Linked DNA regions of Homo sapiens: region 1 is reported to be linked to region 2. Evidence: microRNA targets listed by miRTarBase, many of them from high-throughput screens and not tested one by one. Region 2 holds a microRNA gene; the other region holds the end of a gene's coding sequence.

Evidence for each region. Region 2 holds the annotated microRNA hsa-miR-6809-3p (CUUCUCUUCUCUCCUUCCCAG, at 4,484-4,504, opposite strand). A microRNA usually pairs through its seed, bases 2 to 8, with sites in the 3' UTR of a target mRNA and lowers its output. Matches are read on the target gene's strand: a 7mer-m8 pairs with bases 2 to 8, a 7mer-A1 pairs with bases 2 to 7 and ends in A, and an 8mer does both.
Region 1: miRTarBase lists DR1 as a target of hsa-miR-6809-3p. Seed matches in the 3' UTR shown: 7mer-A1 at 3,745-3,751, 7mer-m8 at 1,985-1,991 and 8mer at 1,903-1,910.

What each region holds. Positions count from the first base shown.
Region 1 is chr1:93,359,543-93,366,662 of GRCh38, reverse strand. It overlaps DR1 (down-regulator of transcription 1), which reads right to left. Exons shown (of 3, transcript NM_001938.3): 3 at 1-6,170. The coding sequence ends at 6,024. Among named protein-coding and RNA genes, the nearest start is that of DR1, 17 kb to the right of the region's middle.
Region 2 is chr2:217,896,030-217,903,149 of GRCh38, forward strand. It overlaps MIR6809 (microRNA 6809), which reads right to left and starts at 4,599; the gene lies at 4,484-4,599. TNS1 (tensin 1) reads right to left here. Exons shown (of 33, transcript NM_001387777.1): 7 at 4,434-4,483; 8 at 1,769-1,940.

The DNA of each region.
Region 1 (7,120 bases), not on the chromosome of region 2:
TTAATTTTAGAAGTGTTTTGGGTCTTTATTAGAAATTTGGTAGTGTTTTTGTAACCAGAAATATATGCCATAGGGACTTAACTCTTATTTATATCAGTTCACCTATGGTAAAATTGATTTCATTATATGTTGTTTTTCTTAAACTCGCAGTTTCCCAGAACCTATCAACAACATTGAGGACTTATTGTATTATAAATTATCTTTATATGAATATAAAGACTTTCCCTATTTCAATTGCGAATATACAGATCTGTGCACTCAAAAATAACAAGCCTATTAGGACTCAAACAGTTATTTGTATACCCACGTTCACAGAAGCATTATTCACAATAGCCAAAAAGCAGAAGCAACCCAGTGTCCATTAATGGATGAACTGATAAACAAAATACGGTATTTACATACTACGGCATATTTGGCCTTTAAGAGGAAAGAAATTCTAATACATGCTACAACATGAATGAACTTTGAAGACATTATGGTAAATGAAATAAGAATGAATCCATTTAGATATCCAGAGTAGTCAATTCATAGAGACTGAATGCTGGTTACCAGAGGCTGAGGAGAGAGGAGGTAATGGGTGGTTATTGTTTAATGAATACATAATTTCAGTTTGGGAAGATGAAGAGTTCTGTAGACGGATGGTGGTGGTGGTTGCACAATAGTATGAATATACTTAATGCCACAGAATTGAACACTTAAAACTGGTTAAAGTGGTGAATTTTACGATATGCATATTTAATCACAATAAAAAATGCTTATTAAAAGATGTACTAGTTATGAAATAGCATACCTCATCTGTTTCAAACTGGGTGTGGCTAACAATGAGGTAGAAAAGCAGCAAGCAGGTACAGAGATTTATAATGGCTGCTCTAGGTCCTATCGGGTAAAGGGATCAGCAGATGTGAAGTCAAGAGTCTCCTGTAAGATTTGACTTTCTTGGAAACATATTTTAATCCTGGGCCTCCTCTTTCCAAATCACCTATTTCTTTTAGTCTTTTTGCAGTGATACTGTGTGTTGCTTCTAACAGAGGTTCAGTTTCACAGCCTTTCCCTCAAGTGTCTTATCCTAAAAGTAAAACCTAGATGATCTAAGGTGGTGGTTTTCAACAGGGTGCAATTTTGCCTCCTATACTCGCAACACCCAGGGACAGTTGGCTATGTCTGGAGACATTTTTGGGTTGTCACAACTGGAAGTAGGGTGGGGAGTGGTGCTAATGACATCAAGTGGGCATAAGCCAATTATGCTGCTAGAAATCCTACAATGCACAGGATAGGCTCCCACAAACAAAGACTTAACCAACCCCAAATACTAACAATGCTTGGTTTGAGAAACCCTGTTCTAAGGTTTTTCTAAGTTGCTTGATTTATGGTAGAAACTGATCATAAGTTAAAAGTTTCCTCCTTTTGGATTGCTTGAGCCCAGGAGTTTGAGGCTATGGTGCATTATGATTATGCCTGTGAATAGTCACTGTAATCTAGCCACTGCAATCTATATTAAGAAACATAGGCCGGGCGCAGTGGCTCACGCCTGTAATCCCAGCACTTTGGGAGGCCAAGGCGGGTGGATCACGAGGTCAGGAGATCGAGACCATCCTGGCTAACACGGTGAAACCCTGTCTCTACTAAAAAAAAACAAAAAAAATTAGCTGGGCGTGCTAGCGGGCACCTGTAGTCCCAGCTACTCAGGAGGCTGAGGCAGGAGAATGGCGTGAACCCGGGAGGCGGAGCTTGCAGTGAGCCGAGATCGCGCCACTGCATTCCAGCCTGGGTGACAGAGCAAGACTCTGTCTCAAAAAAAAAAAAAAAAAAAAGAAAGAAAAGAAAAGAAAAAAGAAAAAGGAAACATAGTGAGACCCTGTTTCTTTAAAAAAAAAAAAAAAGTTTCTTCCTCTTATTCCTTACTTTCTCTTCTCATTTATTTTGAGGAAATAGGATAAGAACCAGTGGTAATACTTTAGGTGAAAGGAGGCTACTTATGTTATCATTCTCTTCACCCTGGCCGATCCTAACCATGACACTTTATATCCTGGGGGATGGTGAAAAACAGAGGAGGTGGGGTAGGACTTGTGGTCAAATTGTTGGGGACAGAGGCAAAAAAGAAAACAGCAACAAAAAAATACAAATGAAGAAATTGGAAGGCAGTGCCTATGCCATCTGAATTGGATAATTCTTCCTAATGGCCATTTGGATATAGATGAGTTGGACAGACATAATTTAGAAACCTATATAAGGAAATATCATGCATTTTAATGAGGTTATAACCCAAAATTTAAAATTCAATTAAAAAATTAAATCACAGATTTTCCCACAACATACTAATTCAACATACTACTTACGATTACTTAAAATTTGCATTTTTTCTAAGGAGCAATAACCTAATGAGTATGTAATACTAATGTGTCAGTTAATAAGGGCAATTACTTTTGCTCTTATTTTCCTGTTATATGAAATTAACAACATACCTGCTGCAATATAACTCATTTGGTACAATTTAGGTGTTTCGAGAAATTCAACCCACTAAGATCATTAGCGTAATTCATTTTTATGCTACACATTAAAATGGTGCCTTCTTACAGTCACTTTGGAAAACTGTTTGACAGTAAATACTAAAACTGAAAATATACACACCCTACAACCTGGCAATTCCATTCTTAGGTTTATACTCAATGGAAATGTATACACTCACCAAAAGACATGTATAAGAATGTTCTACACAGTACTATTCATAATAGCTCAGAATTGAAAAATTCTCAAAAGACTATTAATGGGAGAATGAATAACTTTTGGATGTAATGAAAAATGGATAAACAAACGGAAGACTATACAGCAATGAGAATGAATGAACTACAAATACATGCAACAATAAGAATGGATCTCACTTTGGCAGGTTGAATAACGGCCTCCAAAGATAGCCAGCGTATGAATCCCTGGAACCTGTGAATGTCACTTATATGGCAAAAGAGATTCTGCAGATGTGATTAAATTAAGGATCTTGAGATAGGGGGATTATCCCTGCTTTATGCAGGTGAGCCCTAAACTTAGAGGCAGGGAAAGATCTGACTACAGAAGAGAAGATGATATAATGACAAAAGCAAGCTTTGATCATAGAGAGGAAGGGGTCACAAGCCCATAAATACAGGCCGTCACTGGAAGCCAAAAAAGGGAAGAAAACATTCTCCCTCACAACCTCAATAAAGAGCCAACCCTGCTGATACTTTGATTTAGGCCTAATGAAACTGATTTTTGGACTTCTGATCTCCAGGACTATAAAAGAATAAATCTGTGTTGTTTTAAGTCACTAAGTTTGTGGTAGTTTGTTACAGTGGCAACAAGAAACTAAAATATTCACAAAAATGATGAATGAAAAAAAGTGTATTATGTATGATTACATTTACATAAAATAAAAAACAGGCAAAACTAATCTATGATTTTAGAAGTCAGGATAGTAACTTTCAGCAAGAAAGAAGACAGTGTTAAGATGGGGAAAGAGGAGGGCTTCTGGGGTACACATAATGCTCTGTGTTTTGATCTGAAGACTAGTATGTGAGTTTGTTTAATTTGTGAAAACCTTTATTTGTGTACTGTTTTGTGTGTGTGTGGTATATGCAGTTTTAAAAACTGATGCCTTTTAAACACTTACTAATCTGATAATCTGCCGAAAAAGAATATATAACATATATTCAAGGGGATGGAAAAATACTTACTGAACAATAATTTTATTTCTCAAGAACGCTGAAGATTTTGTTTCTCTCTTCAAAAGATTTAAAAAATTTTAACTGGCAAAACATAATAGTGACTCTTAAATGCTAAAAAAAAAAAAAAAAAAAAAAAAAAAAGAAAAAACCTAAAAATAAAATATTGCATAAGTAAGCTTTGTTATGCCTCGATCTTAGGACTGTAAATTATAAAAATACAAGTAAAACCACATTTTTTGAAATAACAGTAAACAAAAACAAAAGGCAGGTACTACATACCAAATGACCAAAATGTCTTTTGGGCCTAAGATTCTTGAAAATAGTAAAAATGGTAATAATAGAAATCTCTCTATAGAACATTAAATATAAAAACCATTTATAAAACACATCACAATTTTATTGCTTGAAGAATACAGCATATGAAATCACAAGAATGTCAAAATGAAAAGTCACTAGGCTTCAAACGTATAATACATTATCAGATGCAGTAAAATATTAACCTGAACTCTGCATCAGAAAAAAAAAAAAAGGTGTGGAAAATATCTAAGTTGTTTACTTAAGAAACAGATATACTTAAAATAGAAAGTATAAGGATGTTACAGTACAAATTAGAAAAGCCAACACGTATTAACTTATCGTTCTAGACTAGACTACCTTTGGTACTTAAACTTTTTAAAAAACAATTTCTTCTATCTCATCCAAATGCACTTCATGGGTATGACATCCATGAAGTAACTTCAACTTAAAACATTCAGCAAAATTAACCTTTTCACTTCATGGGGGAAGTATATTTAATAAATGTATAACAATATTTCCCTTTTACTAAAACTGCAAAATATGATCATTAAGAAACCTAACAGTTATAAAACTTTACTTACTTAGCTCTCCAATTAAAATTGGAATCCTGGGAGCCACAATCTATTTTTGGGCTTGGTGAATACATAAGTTTAAAAGATTTGGCAACTGACATAGGAATTTAATTACTTAATACTATCTTAAGTGACTTTTCCTTTCTGTTTCCAAAATATAGACATTATGCCATTTCTTCAACATCCTGGATTCCTATAAACACTACCATACTGTATTTATTAGAACCAAATTAAAGCTTCTCTAACAAGCAGGTAGAAACTATTTATGTTCCATATACGGCTGATAAGTTATAACACAACTTATGTTTCATATAGGGCTGATCAGTTAATTCATATAGGGCTGATCAGTTGTAACATAACTTCTTAAGCAAAACTAATCTTTTTTTTAAAGCTATCACTCAATTATGGAGACAATAATGTCATCTCAAAAGGTAATGTTGGACTCTAGGCCATCTAGTTGGGAAAATGTAAAAGTAATTCTAAAAACAATAAGTAAACTATAACTACAAGTTAAATTAAAAATCCCTCTCTCATAGCAAGCATGCTCATTAACTTTCATTTCTTTCCCCCAGCAAAGGTTTGAATATTCATAAACCTCAGTTAAACCAAGAGAACCAATGTAATTGTTTCAAAAGTACCACCTATATATTTGAATAATATGAGTATGGATGGACTAGGTAAGTAATACTATCAACAATTACTGAATTGGAGTGAAAGAGTAAAAATCATGACAGACTTCCAAACTGGGCAGTCTTTGAAATGTCATAGTGGAGCTCAAAATGAATTATGCTGTAATAAAACTATAGTTTTTACCTCTACACAAAACAGAAACAAAATAAAAAAACATAACCACCAAATTTATACAAATACTATTAAACATACTCCTTCCTAGTTTTTGAATGTCTTGAAGTTTTTCTAAACAAGTATATTGATCTGAGCATATATATTTATTGCCTATATATGTACTCATTTTAAAAGACAAATTCAGATACTACAGAACTGAACTCTTTCACCAACCCAATCCAATGTCTACTGATTCACACAGCACCCCCCCCTTAATAATTTAAAATTCACAAGTTTTAGTTTAGTTAAAAGGGCAGAGGAAATGCAAATGCAGATTTAGAGCTTTGTAGAAATTTCACTGTATTTTTATAAACTTGAAGTTATCTGTAACACTGTTTATTGATCAAACGAAGGACTCGCTGCTATCTAAAATTTCATAAACACCATTAAAAATTCAAAATTGATATTATACTGAACCTTAAATTTTCAATAGTTCAAAGAGACAGTTTTTACATGTATAGCACACAATAGATGAAACTTAATAGCAGACATCCCTAGAATACCAATGACAAGTCCACCAAGATGCATACAAAATTACAGATAAGCATTTCTTTCACTGTTTTTGTTGTGCAGGGAAAAACATTTATAGAAGAAATAGAAACTCAGCTGGTGAATTTCAGATATCATCATCATCTTCTTCATCCTGAGAAGATCCCGCCTGATTAGATGCACTGGCTGAGGCAGCAGCAAGCTGGGCTTGTTGGGCAGCTTGCTGCATTTGAAGCCATTCCTGTTGGGCCAATTCTGCTTGTTGCTGTCTAGCCTAAACACCCAAAACATAAAAAAAAATAACAATTTTTTACAAACCCACAATATATACACTTTGGTTAAATGTAGATTAGGCCAATTTCAGACAGTTTATTATCATACTTGGATACTGTCCAAGTACTATGTAATTGTCACACATCTGGAGAACATAAACTCTATAGGTAAATATAATTAGAGATTGCTTTTTTCTAACTACACAGGTCTAAGAAATTTCTCAAACTTGGATCTCTTATAAATGGCCCTGTTTTATTTCACGTAATTTATGACCTTTGATTCAACTGAAGAAGTTGAAAAAGTGGAACCAATATTGTGAAAAACCCACAATATTCCCTCTGGCTCTTTCCCTCTTCTTTTCCTTTCATTTCACTTGACTCTTCTGTACCCTCATATTACAACTTTGATACAAACATTTTTCAATCTAAAATTTATTTATATGGTTTAAAAGTTCTCTAGTATAGTACCTCTACCTCATAGGAAAGAAGTACTGTACATGTATGCAGTAGCTACCCCATTATTTCTTTCTGAGTTTCTATTACAATTCCCTAACCTACTATATGCCTATCTCTCTGTGTCCCTCATTCCCTCTCTGTAAGTACACACATTTGCATATACACACATACAAATATACATATCCTTCCCGTATACACACTAGTAAAAAGATACTACTTAAAATCCATTCATCTGATATATCCTCTATTAAAAACAACCACAGGATTTAAGAAACCAGGATGCATACATTATTAATTACCTATGAAACAGCTAAGGCTCCTTCACAATTTAATTTCATCTGTTTGCAGAAAAACCACACCAAGAAGGGAAAAAATGAACCTGTTCTTAAAAAGGTCTTACAATTTCCCATTAGACTCTGCCAAAACAATCCTTTTCTCCTTCTCTGTCTGTTCTTGGAATTGTTCTTTAAGTCCAACTCAGACCCTCCCCTTTATG
Region 2 (7,120 bases):
CCACCTGTCAGCCTGTCTTAAGGACTTTACATCTAACAGCTGGCTTAATTCTCTCAACAACAATAAGAGGTAGACCTCAGACCCACTTTACGGACACAGAAGCTAGGGCTTAGTGAGGCTAAACAGCTAAGATCATGTAGTTAGTAAAGGCAGAGCCAGAATTTGAACCCAGGACTTTCTGAGGTTTAAAGCCAAGCTCTTAACAATGCCCCAATGCAGCTAACAGGTGGGTCTCTATAGTGGTTGAATAGTATCCTCAAAACGTCATGTCCACCCAGAACTTCAGAATACAACCTTATTTGGAAATAGTGCCTTTGCCAGTGTAAGTAGTTAAGGATCTCAATATGACATCAACCTGGATCTAGGGTGGACCCTAAGTCCAATAATTGATGTCCTTGTAGGAAGAGAAGACACACAGAGAGACACTGAAGAAGGCCACGTGGAGATGGAGGTAGAGATTGGAGTGATGCGCTACAAACCAAGGAATCCCACCGCAAGCTAGGAAAAGGCAAGAAGGGATTCTCTGCCATAGGATTCAGAGGGAGCATGGCCCCGTCAACACCTTGATTTCAGATTTCCAGCCTTCAGAACTGTGAGAGAATAAATTTCTGTTATTTTGAGCCACCAGATTTGAGGTAGAGTCATCACTTGGTGTCTATGGAGGATTTGGATCTAGGACCCCTCCACCCCGCCATGGATAGTGGATACCAAAATCCATGGGTGCTCAGGTCTCTTACATAAAATATGTACTATTTACATATAACTTGCATATAAAAAATGTACTATTTGCATATAACTTATGCATATACTTCCGTAGACTTTAAATCATCTCTAGGTTACTTGTAATACCTAATACAATATAAACGCTCTGCAAATAGTTGTTCTGCTGTATTGTTTTTATTTGTATTGTTTTTTATTGTTATTTACTGTTGGGTTTTTTCTGAATATTTTCAACTCATGATGGATTGAGTCCAAAGAGGTGAAACCCATGGATAGAAAGGGCCACCTCATTTGCTACAGTGGCCCTGGGAAACTAATGCAGCCTCCTACATCCCACCTCAAACACCCTGGGGACAGCCACCTGAGGTTGTACAGATCAGATCTGTGGGTCCAGTCCACAGGCACCTCCCTCTAAAATGGACCTGAGCCCTCCTCTGGGGCCAAGGACGGATCAGCCTTTCTGCGTTAGTGGAGACCACCGCCAGCACCTCTCTCCCGTGTGCCAAGGTGACTCCTCTGGGCCAGGCCGAGCCAGGTGCCAGCAACCCAGGGTCCCTTAAGACACATGTTGCCAAGACTCTGCCCTCAGACTTCTCAGAGGCACCGACCCTGTGCCAGCTCTGCCACTTCCTGACCCTGCAACCTTAGGCAAATAACCCCACCTCTCTGTGCTCTGGCAAGTGCCTGCTTGCTAGGGCTGCTGCAAAGGTTAAGTGCGTGGAAAGCAGTTGGAACAGGGCCTGGCTAGTAGCAAGCGCTCAATAACCTGAACTCTTATTGGTACTCTCTTCTCCTGGCCAGCACACACATGCACACACAGAGTTCCAGATGCTACATTCCAGCTGCAGCACACTCCTTAGAGGAGAGCTGGGCTGGAGAGTGATTGAAGACTCAGGCACGAGAGCTGCCTGAGGGGAAAGGCAGATAAACAAAGAGAAGAGGGCATGCTGGCACAGGGGCTGGTGGCAGGGATACCAGTCATGTAGAGGTGGTGAGCAGATGGAAGCATAGAGGGCACAGGACAGTGGGCACGAGGATCCATCCTCACCAGGTAGTTGCCTCCATGTTTGGACTTGAGCATCTGCGCCACCTCACGGAGGTTGCTCCGGAAGTTCTCCTCATTGGCTGTGCTGGGGAAGGAGACAGCGATGATCCTCTCTGTGACGTACACCAGGTCCAGCTCACAGCTGTCCTCCATGGTCCGGCTCACACTCATGTTTCTAGGGAGACAGCAGGCAGCGGAGGGTCCATATCAGAATCCAGCCCACAGGGAAGGCCCCAGATAGCTGCACCCCATACACACCCTGTGTGACCCCCATATGCAGCCCAGGGTGCTTGGCTGCTCTTCAACCCAAGGCCAAGGCCACAGGCTTCCTCTGGCAAGGCCAATGTGGCCGGCTTGGGAGTGCCGGCGAGAACAAGCTGGGTAGGGCTGGCAAGGACCTCAGGCCATTTCAGAACCAAACTGTGATGACACCAATTCTTGGTTCCCATCAGTCCTTTGGCCACTGCCTTCAACCTGTGACTCCAGAGCTCAGAGCCAGGGCCAGACTGGCCCAGGAACCCAGGAGCTCTGGCTCCCAACACTGGCTGCCTGGCCAGGCAGAAGTCTCCCGAAAGGCCCCAGACTGCTCTGGAAGAGGAAGGAGAGCCTGCGCTGGGCGCTCTCCAGCCCTGGAACGGAGACTTCCCACTGCCCGCCCCTAGCTCTCGAGCTGTGGAGTGGGCGGGAAACCTCTCAGGGGAGGGGGCATCTCAGGTGACACGTTCACCTGGGTTCCAGGTAAGCCAGACCACAGCACACATTCCAGCCCTCCCGGAGGCAGGCCAACTCCTGCCCTTTGTTCCTTGGCCTTCTCCCCACCTCTGGCAGCTCCCACTGCCTGCCAGAGCTGCTTCTTGGCAGCAGCCTCCCTGATTTCTAAGGGCCCAGAAAACAAGAGGGCACAGAGCCCTTGTTGCTGCAGTGGCGGGCAGCCGCCAGCACCATGCGTTTCCCGGAGAGGTGGGGAGGCCCCTGGGCTGGCCATCCTCTCCACTGGGCACTGGGTGAGGAAGGGAGGGGCTCGCATCTTTACATCTCTCCCAACTTTTCTTCCAGAGGAAGGGTCCAGGATGCCCACTTGGGAAGCCCACCTCTTGCTTCTAGAAGCACCTCCCCCATCCCTCCAGCTTTTTCCCCAATCATTGACCTCCTAGTGTCTCGCTTCCCCCTCTATCAAATGCAGGCAGCACTGACATTTCATTCTGCTAACCTTTCACCACAGCGGGATAAAGTGGAGAGTGGAGGGCAGCGAAAGGAATACCACTGGGGTATTTAAAAGTGATGAGGGCTCTCTGGCACTAGACAGAACAAGCCCCCAGATGCTGAGAAGCCATGAGGAATCCAGACCTCCACCAGGGTTCAATCCCAGTCCAGGTGGGGTGTGGAGATGGGGCAGCCAAGGATGAGGCATGGCAGGACCTCTCTGTTGGGATGACAGGGGCCTGAGTGGGACTGGGGACCAGCACCCAGAGGTAAGGAGCCCGGTTTGAGTTTGACTCTGAGTCCCAGCTACTTCTTGTCCCTATGGAAAGCTTCTCATTGCAGCTGTGGGGGAGAAGTTTCTATCTCAAGCCAACTGCCTACCCAAGGACAGTTCTTGTAGGTGGTGACCAGTCTGGGACAAGAAGCCACACGCACACATACCTGCAAGCAAGTGGGTGTGAGGGCGGGGAGCCTCAGCTAACTTGCAGCATCCCCTCCTCCCCATCCTCCAAAACCCCTCTCTGTTCTGGCTCCAAGGAAGAAACTAGAATGTCAGAAAAACTCGCAAGACAAGCTCCTGTGATTTCAGCCTCTCCCTCAGCACAGGAAGGGGAGCAAGAGGGGCCGTGCTGGTGAGGGCCATGAGTCAGACGTGGCCCATCTGGGGCACTGACCCGCCCCTGTCTACAGGCTGGATCCCAGGAAGGACGCAAATGCAGAACAGTGCCACCAGCCGGACAGCCTCAGCATCACACTCTGCATCCACCTGCCCAGGTCTAAGGGAAGGAGGGGATCCTCTAAGGAGCCACCTCCAGTCTGTGGACAGCTGGCAGCTGGGCCAGAAACTTCCAGGGGCTTCAACTCTACTGCAGGGCTGGCATCCCCAATCATCTCAGGAGCCTCAGTGGGTGAAGGTGAGGCAGAGAGGGCAAAACAAACTCTCTGGATCGCCAGGACACAAAGTCCCTTGTGCATCCCCTTCCCCCGGCCCCTGCCAGCCCAGCCAGATAGGGAACTTCCCTTTCATAAATGACTCTGCCCAGTCAGAATCCTGTCTGCAGAGAGGAAGAGATCCAGCACAGGCCTCAATGCTCATCAGCCCTAAACGCAAATCCAAGTGCTGCCTCTTGGTGGCTGTGTGACCTTTACAAGTCACCTCATCTCTCTGAAATGCTGCTCTACCAAAGGGAATAAAATACGTACCTTGCGGGGTTGTTGCAAGGACTAGATGAGCTCATGCAGGTAAATAAAGACTCAGCTCAAGGGCTGGCTAAGAGCTCAAAACACAACTGTTGCCAACGGCATCCGCACGCATCCTCTCCTGTGCCTTTCACGTTTGCCCACACTCCCCACCCGTGGCTTTATGGCTGCAGTCCGGGGGACCCAGAGGCAAGACTTAACAGGGACACCCACAGTGACCCCCCTGCTTGCACTCCCGCCCCCTGCCCCCACGGGCCAGGCATACCTGATGGGCTGGAGGTGGGGCTGGACACTCGGGGTGACCCTGGTGGAGCCCTGGGAAGGAGAGAAGAGAAGCAGCATTATGCAGGGGTGGGCAGGATGGCAGGAGGAGCACACCAGAGAGCTGTCCACGGGGGCAAACATGATCCTCTTCTTTCCTTGCCAACATTCTGGCCCTGCCACCCTAACCCCTGCAAAAACACAGCCTGCCCGAAGCCAAAGCCATCAACACTGATTCCACGTGAGTGTGCCTGCCTGTGTGCAAGCCCCAGAGGGACAAAAGGAAGAATCCCGAATGCTGAGGAGTGCACCCCACTGGGCTGGTGCCATCCACACTGAGGGCACACTCAACAGTTACTGAATCAATGGAAACACACTTCACTTTGATACACTCGCCAACACAAGAGAAACCCCAGGAGGAGAATACGACTGCCACCACAAAAGGAGCGATGAGAGTAATGGCGCCCCTCTGTCTTGCCACCATCACCCCACACTTCTCTGCTTGAAAGCTGTAACATCAAGTCATTCAATTGAGTTTAGAGACCAGAACAGGCAGGTGGAGCATGCAGGAACCAAGACGAGGCCTAAGACAGTGAGCCATGCTCCTGAGGGCCCACTCCCCACTGTCTGTGGCAGACAGTAACCATCTCACCCACTCCCCTTTTCACAGCTGTCGAGTGGTACAAACTTAAGCAAATGGGCCCAATCCATCCCAGGGCAGCAGGATGGCATGGCGGGTGTGAAAGCACAGGGTCAGAGGCCCACAGACCACAGAGTTTGGATTCCAGGATCCTGCTGGGCAGCCCTGCCAGTTACTTAACCCCTCTGAGCCTCTTGTAATGTCACATGTAAAATGGGACAACCTTCAGGCTGGCAGTGAGGATCCAAAGGAGTTATGCATATAAGGCACTTCGCATCATGCCTGGTATTTACCAGATGACAGCTGTTGTTTTTGTTGTTACTTTTGTATCAAGAAAAATGAAAAGGGTAGTTACAACCAAACATTCACCTCTATAGAAAACCAACACCCTGCATCGCCTCTACCCATCCTTCCAGTCACCTCACAGGATGCAGAATTGGGAAGGCCAGTTTCTAGATTCTCAGACCTCCTGAGCCCATTGACACCTTCCAAACACCCATGTGCCTCTCAGAAAATGGTCTTTTCCTACCGCCAAGTTGCAGCCTCTTCTTTAAAGAGACAGGACCACAATCTGCCAAGAAAGGAAGAAACTGAGGCACAGAATAACTTACCCTCAAGTCCCTGGGAAGTTGACGGCCAGGCAGGATTCACACTCCAACCTGGGGCTTGACCACGGGGTCTCCAAGAAGAGGAGCCCCTGCACCCCTCTCCTGGCTCCGCAGTGCCTACGAGGCAGGATAGGTGGGTTCCGAGGTCCAGCTCCCAGCTGAGCCCCAAGTTAGAGCAGCTCTGCTAAGAGGGGGACCCTCCATCCAGCTGTCCGGAAGAAGGCTCTGCCCAGAGTCCCAGCTGCCTCGGACCAATGAGCAGCTCCTCAGCAGTGAAGGAGGGAAGAGCCAAGTGGGGCTACTGGGGGGAAGTTTCTAAGTCTCACAGCTCTTCTGGCCCTGAGGACTCCAGTTTGCATGAGTCAAGCTTGGGGGTGGGGGGATTAGACAGGGGTGGAGCTGGGAGTCAACGAGTGACTGTGTTTGGTTTTCAAGACCCAAACCAGGCTGTTCCAAAACTGCCCCCTCAGAGGAACACAGAAACCCAACAGTTCACCCATCTCCATTTCACTGGTCCCTAATGAGGAGTCCCTGAATCTCCCCAGGCCCTAGGCCCTGCTCCAGGCCCCAGGGCCACCCTGCTATAAATAGCCCCTTGAGTTTCATCTGTTGCTGATCCGTAGCCACTTTTGGAGGAAGCCACCACAGCTGCTTTGAACAACTGGAAGCCACAACGGTAGCCAAGACGTGAGGTGTGGCCAGGAGCATGGGACCAGACCCAGGGAGCTGGAGAAAGACAATGGGCCATATTGATATGGGCTTGGCAGGGGGAACTGGGGAACCAAGGGGGGCCGGGAGCCTGCAAAGGTGCAGGGGTAAGCAGGACAAGCAGGACAGGAGACCTGGCTCCCCTTTCCCCACCGCCCTCTTCCAAACATTACAACACTCCACATTCCTCAGCCTCCCCACCCCAAAAAAAGCCAGTGAAGATAAATAAAAACTTGGCCCAAACAGAGTCTGGCCAGGCCGCCTCCAGAGGTGATAAGGCAAAGTCCAAGCCCGCTCTGCTCCACCGGGCGGGGAGGGGAGGGGAGGCATGGGGAGGAAGCCACCCTGGACAGTGACCCCAGTGCAGAGGATGGGGGACGAACAGCTGGGACTGTCATCCCCTGATGAATCACTGGGCTGCCCTCTCACTGACGGGGCTTCCTGTTTTCTGCAAAGTTTGGGGGCACGTGACCCTTGCTGGCGGACAGCAGACATGCACGGTGACACGTCTGAGTGTCGGTACACACAGACAGACAGAACTCAGAGAACAACAAATGGGCTGGGGCAGGGGCACGGCATGTCAGCAAACACACCCTACTGCTCCAGAAACACAGGTGACCTCACACGAGGCTAGAGATGGTGCCTTTGGAAGCATGCCTCATCACGTAGGCTTTTTACAAGCACAGTGGGAGTAACACAAGGCATCCGGTCATCCCTGGGCCTCCAATCTTCATG